Homo sapiens: one gene and its partner. The gene in region 1 interacts genetically with each later gene. Each region holds a gene or a part of one and is shown on either strand. Other genes may lie near its edges. The genes, in order: GNA12 and TEC.

What was found.
Region 2: of GNA12 (region 1) and TEC, changing one enhances a phenotype caused by changing the other (phenotypic enhancement), as found in Homo sapiens cells (one study listed by BioGRID).

Annotation. Positions count from the first base shown.
Region 1 is NC_000007.14:2,792,249-2,796,069, forward strand, and holds part of GNA12 (guanine nucleotide-binding protein subunit alpha-12), read right to left. Parts: intron 2,896-3,821; coding exon 2,680-2,895; intron 1-2,679. UniProt on the Homo sapiens protein: Guanine nucleotide-binding proteins (G proteins) are involved as modulators or transducers in various transmembrane signaling systems. Activates effector molecule RhoA by binding and activating RhoGEFs (ARHGEF12/LARG).
Region 2 is NC_000004.12:48,165,176-48,168,996, reverse strand, and holds part of TEC (tyrosine-protein kinase Tec), read left to right. Parts: intron 1-370; coding exon 371-411; intron 412-1,043; coding exon 1,044-1,219; intron 1,220-3,821.

The DNA of each region.
Region 1 (3,821 bases):
GTGAAGAAGGGGAGAAACAAGCAGACTGGGCTTTGAGGCCCAAATTTCTCACAGTGATTACCAAGATGATGTGGCCTCAGGCACAGCATAACTGGTACGGGCTTACTTCCATGTCGTGACAATACAAGGGCTTGACTTCCTAAATTGGGAGGTCCCTTCCAGCACTGACACCCTGCACTGACGGAACAGGGCAAAGACAGAAGCCTGTCAAAGCTGCTGCACCATGCCGAATCCCAGACAGAAGCCTCACTCAGTACGATCAGCCCCAGACACTTCTGCTTCCTTCTTTGGAAAATCCTCAATTTCCATCCAAGTTCTAAATGAATGAGAATCTTCTTTCCCAGACTCTGTGAGTGTATGGGGAAAAGGTGTAAACCTCAATTTCACATTGAGATACTGACATGTATTTCCCAATTGTTTCTTCCAGCCCTGCTCTTTAGGAGATTAAAATTTCCTTTCTACCGCAACCACATCTTCCACTCTCTTTTGATTCTTTTACCTTAACTGTTAAAGTTAACTTGAGAAGGAATGTGCAGATGGAAAGGGGCTAGTAAAAACGTCATCCTTAAGATGCCCTGGAGGACATTAACATTTACAGGCAAAAGCCTGAGGAGAAACAGGCTATTTGCAGGGTCTCAATGTATCTCCCTAAGATATGTGTTAACAACACAGAGAAAATACTGACTTCCCAGTGGAGAAAGGTGGCCAACAGTGCCTCAACCAAGCAACCCAGGCTTGCATCACCAGCCACTGGACAATATCACGCACTTCCTGATCAGATGATCTGAGCAGGGCTCAACGGCACGCCTGCGGTTTCTGTGCCAAAAAAATGCATCCCCTCATCCTGATGACGAGAAAATACCAGACAAACCCAAACAGGAAGATTCTACACAATACCTGGCCAGTGCTCTGGACATGTCAAGGTCATGAAAGGCAAGGAAAGATCAAGGAGCTATCATGGACTGCAAGAGACCAAGGGGACACAATGACTAAACACAATGGGGGATTCCAGGCCAGGATCCAGCAGACAGGAGCGCGAGAGGAAGCAGCGGACAGGACGCGAGAGGAAGCAGCGGACAGGACGCGAGAGGAAGCAGCGGACAGGAGCGCAAGAGGAAAGGTGGGTCACATTCAGACAAGGTCTACAGTTAATTGATGCTTTCATACCGATGTCAACTTCTTAGTTTTAATAGTTGTATAGTGGTTAAGATGTTAACATTAGGGGGACTTGGGAGAAGAATATAAGGAAATTGAACTGAGGGGACTATTAGCAGACTATATAGCACCTCTCAGATGATTGAGAAAAATAAAAATTACTCTGCAGGAAAAGGATGGGTAAAAGATATGAATAGGGTGGGGCATGGTGGCTCACACCTGAAATCCCAGCACTTTGGGAGGCCGAGGCGGGTGGATCACCTGAGGCCAGGAGTTCGAGACCAGCCTGGCCAACATGGTAAAACTCCATCTCCACTAAAAAATATAAAAATTAGCTGGTGTGGTGGTGGGTGCCTACAGTCTCTGCTACTCGGGAGGCTGAGGTGGGAGAATCACTTGAATCCAGAGGTGGAGGTTGCAGTGAGCTGAGATGGCGCCACTGCACTCCAGGCTGGGCAACAGCGCGAGACTCCATCTCAAAAAAAAAAAAAAAAAGGAAAAAAAAAGACGTTTCCAATAGCAAAATATGAAAAACAGTTCAAAAGTACCTCAATGAAAGAAGGAATGGATCCTAGTATCTTTCCACAGTGGAGCATCAGACAGCAGTGAAAAGGGAAGAACCGCTGCTATGTGCCTCGCCTGATGAAATTCCAACATGTGGAGTGAAAAAGGCAAGTCACAGAAGCATATATACTATACACTAAGAAATGACTTATATGAAGGTTAAGAATCAGTAAAACTCAAGACTGTCGTGTTTACAAATAATAAATGGGTATTATGGCAAAATCATAAGAACGGCAAAGGATTCATGACTTCAACTTGACTCTGGGTGCTAAGGGGGCAAACGGCTGTGAGAGTGAGAGGCATTTCTGGATACCCTGGGTGTGTATTAATATCAGCTGTGCACATTTATGCTGGTTATCAGAAAAATTGTACATTTTACTTTATATACGGTTAATTTTGAAAGGTAGAAAAAAACAAAAAGCAAACAGGCAAAACCCCCCAGATTTTCTGGTTATAGATTCAGACCCCAAATGAATCTAAATAACTGGGCTTTGTGAAGTTTTTAGACCTTAAAACGAAAGGAACAAATCTGAAGGGAACAACTGGGAGGAGTTGGATTTGCTTCCGAGGCGCTGATCTGAAGGCGTTCGTGAGTTGCCCATACCCACAGGTCCAAAGTGGGAAGCTGTTGTGGGGGGTGTTATTTCCTACTATGAACAAGATCTCTAAAAAAAACTAAATTTCTCGGGTTGTGCCAATGCTGATGATTCTAAGAACCCTCCGTATTCCCAGAAGAAAGCTATTGATCTTACCTGAGTGGCTCTTGCTCCTTCCCCTCTTGAGCCTTTTATATAGCATCTGCCTCCATCCCGTGTTTTGGTTGTTGATCATTACAACTTACGGTGATTTAGAGCTTGCTTGGACTGTTACACAGTTTTTAAGGAAATTCAACTAACGGTCCAAAATAGTCATGTAAAAAACACACTATCAGGTGCCCAGCAAGAAGGCCTACTCACTCACCAGCTGAAACTCGCTTCTCCGGCTGAAAGCCTCCCTGATGCCAGAATCCCTCCAGAGTGCGCTCAGGGCCGGGACGTACAGCTGGAAGGTGGCCGGCTCCACAGGCAGCCCCGCCTTGTTCTCGAAGGCCATCAGGAACATCCCATGCTTCTCATTTTCAGAATACTGCCAAGGAATGCCAAGCTTATCTCGTGCATCAACAAGAACCCTTGAGCCCTAGAAAATAAAAGAAAGAAGAGAGGATTTAATTGCATTCCAAAGACTAAACCACGCTAGAGAAGCTCAAAATGGGCATCCATTGTCATAACGCAGAAAACTCACAAGCTCTGAGCTGTGCAGCCTGAGTCTGTCTCTTGGTTTGTTTGTTGTGATGTGGAAAGTCTTAACTCTCAGCAGTATAACCTCACCAAGACAGACGCACATGGCCGAGAGCAGTGGCTCACACTGTGAGCCTCCCCTTTGGGAGGCCAAAGAGGGAGGACTGCTGGAACACAGGAGTCTGAGACCGGCCTGGGCAACAGAGCAAGACCCTGCTTCTACAAAAAATTAAATCAAATTAAAAACAGCTGGGCTTGGTGGTGGCACACCTGTAGTCTCAGCTGAGCGGGGAGGATTGCTTGAGCCCAGGAGGTCAAGGCTACGGTTATCTATGATTGCTGCACTATATTCTAGGCTGGGCAACAGAGCAAGACCCTGTTTCAAAAAAAAAAAAAGAAAAGAAAAAAGAAAAAAAAGAAAACAGATGTACATAAGCACCACAGAAAGAAGTCTGCTTTCTGCTATCATTCATTTGCAAAGCTACTGGAAAAAAGACAACTGGGCGGGGAGGAGGTGGCAACAATTTCAGAAAATTTCACTGGAAAATGAAGTGTATCAGTAAAAAAACAACTTTTTTTTTTTTTTTTTTCTTAGATGGAGTTTCACTCTTTTTGCCCTGGCCTGGAGTGCAATGGAGTGATCTCGGCTCACTGCAACCTCCGCCTCCCAGGTTCAAGCAATTCTCCTGCCTCAGCCTCCTAAGTAGCTAGGATTACAGGTACCTGCCACCAGGCCCGGCTAATTTTTTATTTTTAGCTGAGATTACAGACCACCACGGACTGCTAATTTTTGTATTTTTAGTAGAGAGGGGGGTTCCACCATGT
Region 2 (3,821 bases), on another chromosome or scaffold:
CTGTGGACTGTAGAGGAATGGACAGCCAAAGCTGATTAATTTCTCAGTGTTGTCATGATTTCAATGTTTGATTCCATGAGCATTATTGAGTGCCCAGTTTATGCAGTGGTAGGAATACAAAGAACTGGCCTGGCTTCAATCCCTGTGGCATTTATTGTGCGTTCAGAAAGGCAGAAATACAAACCAGCTATAATAGCAGTTTTTAATTCTGTTCTAGAATAGAGATACAAGCAGCATACACCAGAGTTGGTCAGAGTGTGCTGCTTGTCTATGTGTTAACTTCCACTTTTCCTTAAAACTACCCATATCTTATTTTTATCAATTATTGGTAGATAGCATTTTAATCTGTTTTTGTTGTTGGCATTTTCAGGTATAAGAAAAGCACTACCTCCAGCACCAGAAACAAAGAAGGTAGGTGGTCTTTAGCTTTTGATAGTTAATCTTTACATTTTAAGCCTTTAAGTCTTAAGTTTTGGTAGTGTTTGTGACTTACTGAGTATGCGGTTTATTCATTGATGTGACACAATTTTTCCCTAGGATCGTCTCAGAAGCAGATGTGCTGTAGCTTATTTCAATTTTTTGTGGTGTCAAATAATACCAATTTAATTGTATGAGATTTTATCATTGGAGATCCTGTTATCATCTGGCATTTTGCCTCTATTTTCACTTAAAGAGTTGTATTAAGAGGAGTGGGATTTAGATAAATATTTCAGTCTTAAGACCACAGTGTGACAAAGAAGTGACTTCACTGATATAATGATATGCCTTTCAGGAGTGGGGTATAGTGGAGGAAACATGCACTTTGGACTCATTCAAGACTTGATCTGATATGAGTGACTTTGAGTGGGTTAATTAAATCATTGTTACCTTAGTTATGAAACAGGAATTATAATACTCTTCTTCATGAGAGTTTGTTGGATTATAGTAAGTAGACTTGAAGTTTCTAGTTTATTCTGTGGTGATGTATGACTCATTTAGTGTTTTGATTCATGATCAGTTTCATATAGAAGACTAAACTTTCAAATGTTATCTTCCTTGTCTAGCGAAGGCCTCCCCCACCAATTCCACTAGAAGAAGAAGATAATAGTGAAGAAATCGTTGTAGCCATGTATGATTTCCAAGCAGCAGAAGGACATGATCTCAGATTAGAGAGAGGCCAAGAGTATCTCATTTTAGAAAAGAATGATGTTCATTGGTGGAGAGCAAGAGATAAATATGGGTAAGTATTCCCTCTATGTGTGTGATATGCAGTGGGTAGGTGGGAGTCAAGTGTTGAGTGAGAAGTAGATAAGTCGTAACTATCGTGTAATGAGACTAATTTCACCAGCCATAAATGGAAGCACACCTTATTACTTGGTAGTAACACAGTCCTTTCTTAGTGGTCACTCAGTAAATGCGAATTGATCAATCACTTCTTTTCAAAAGTTAGAATACATTGGTCTCTTTCTCATCTGATACATGTTTAATGTGATTATTTTGACCTTGAGGGAAATTAAATTTTATATTTTGTCCCCACCTGCCATAAGTAAGTAATCTTAGATTTTTCTAAGAGTTTATTGTAATTTTTTTCTTAGACTCTCTCTCTCTATATATACGTATGTGTATGTGCGTGTGTGTATGCATACACATACACAGTATAATGAAGCCTCTTCTCACTTCTTTCTCTCTCTCCATGAATATATGGAGGAATAAGAGAATATATATATATGTATATGTGTGTGTCTATATGTGTGTATATGTGTTTGTGTATGTATATATAAAATATATATATGTACATGCAGGAAATTAAACAGCAAGCTTTTTTTTGTACAAGTTAATTTAGGATTTAAAGAAAACAGTCCTTTCAACCCTATCATTGATAAATATATGGGCAGATAGGGGTAACTGTAGGGGATGAGTATCTTGCAGGCTTCATAAGCAAACTCTGTATCCTGTGTTTACCTCTGCAGTGCAATCCCACTTATACTCTGAGTTCCAGTGGATGAGAAGAGGAGAACTTTTTGTCCTGCCAGAGCACACTCTTCTTCCACCTGCCCTCTCACCTCCCAGCCCCAGCCCCAATTTCAAGTCACTGTTCCTCAGTTCACTTCTGGAGAAGCAGTGGAAACCTCTAGTTTAGGCGGGGTCCTTTTCTTCTGCTTGATTCCTAGGCATGGTGCATATATGAGTGCTGTTTTGCTGTGCATTATTAACTTATTTGCAACTCTTAACCTTTTATTCCATGTTTACAGGAAGGTTGTCACTGCTTCTCTTTATCGGATGCTGTATAAGATTGATTTCTATTTTTAATTTTTTTTTGTTGTAGAAATTTTCAAGCATCCAAAAAGTATATAATAGTATAATAGAATCTCTTTTTGCTTGACTTCAAAAATTACCAACATTTTGCCAGTCTAATCCTTCCATTTTTTTCTAGAATATTTAAAAGTAAATTCAAGTCATCATGTTATTTCACTCCTAAATCTAAATTCTAAAGACTTAAAAAAAACACCACCATGTCATTATCATTCTTAATAACAGTATTTTAAATAAGATCGTCTGTAGACTTTCCCTTAATATTTTTGTACCTGGAGGAAGAGTACAAATGAGAATCCACATAACATATATCTAAGTATTTAGGAGTTATAAATCAAGCTAGCAAACTTTATCCTCCAACTTGACAAATACCCTTTCATAGTGACAAGAAAGGCACGGTTTGGATTTAGAGCTCTGTGCCAGAATGTTGCAGTGCATGGAAAGCTGGCTCTGGGGGGGCTACCTCTCTTCTTTCTTCCCTCCTGCCCTGGCTCTATCTCTCATGTACCATATGGATCTTCCAACCTGTACACCCACACTCTTACTGCGTGGCTTGCAAAAGCTACCCCGCATCATGGCCACACCTTCAGCCTCAGTGAAAGGGAATGCACATGGCCAGCCAGCACAATTTGTTTTTTAGAAGATGGACCCAGTAGAAGGCCCATGTAGACCTTGGAAATGAGCAGGGTGTTCTGGGGTCCTAGTTACCCAGAAAGGAGCATGGGAACACAGGTCAGAGGGAACACGCACTTTTGCAGAGCTCTCAAAAGTGTGGGGTTAGAGCAAGAGCTTCTCTGGCCCAGGTCTAAGGATGGAACCAATTATGTAATTCCAGTTTCCCCGATTAGCTCTAATACTTATTTTTACTGTTGGTTTATTCAAATCAGGACCCACACACTGCATTTTGGTTAATATATCTCTTATGTTTCTCTTATTCTACATTTTTGATTTATTGATGAAAGCAGGTCATTTAACACTAAAATGAGCCATAATCTAGATGAAACAGATTGTTTTCTTGTGGTGTCACTTAATATGCCTGTGTTTCTTGTATTTCTTGTGAACTGGCGAGTAGAGCTAGAGGCTTGATCACATTAGAAGGTGATCTCTGGATGTCCTACTTTTAGTAATGCTAAGATTGCTTAGTGGTTCAGGTGTCAGACTTGTTCCTCTGTCATAAAGTTCTTCATTGGTATTTACCCTGATGATTTGGGGGTTCATTAATGATTCTTTCTTAGAGTCATTATTTCATTAGGGGTTACAAAATGGTGATTTCCTAATTTTGTCATTCCATCTGCATTTAGTAGTTCTCTAAAGAAGAACTGCCTCATATACCAGTTCATTTAGTTCATGAAGGAAAGGAAAGATGAAATTTGGATTCTTAAACTTTTACTAGTTTTCAGAATAATGAGTTGATGACTGAGCTTTCTCTAGTGATAACAATGGTAACCAACAGTTTATTTTTAGTGTTATTATGGATACTTATATATTTGGTTCCAATCCATTGCCACCATTATTCTCTTTGCTTGAAT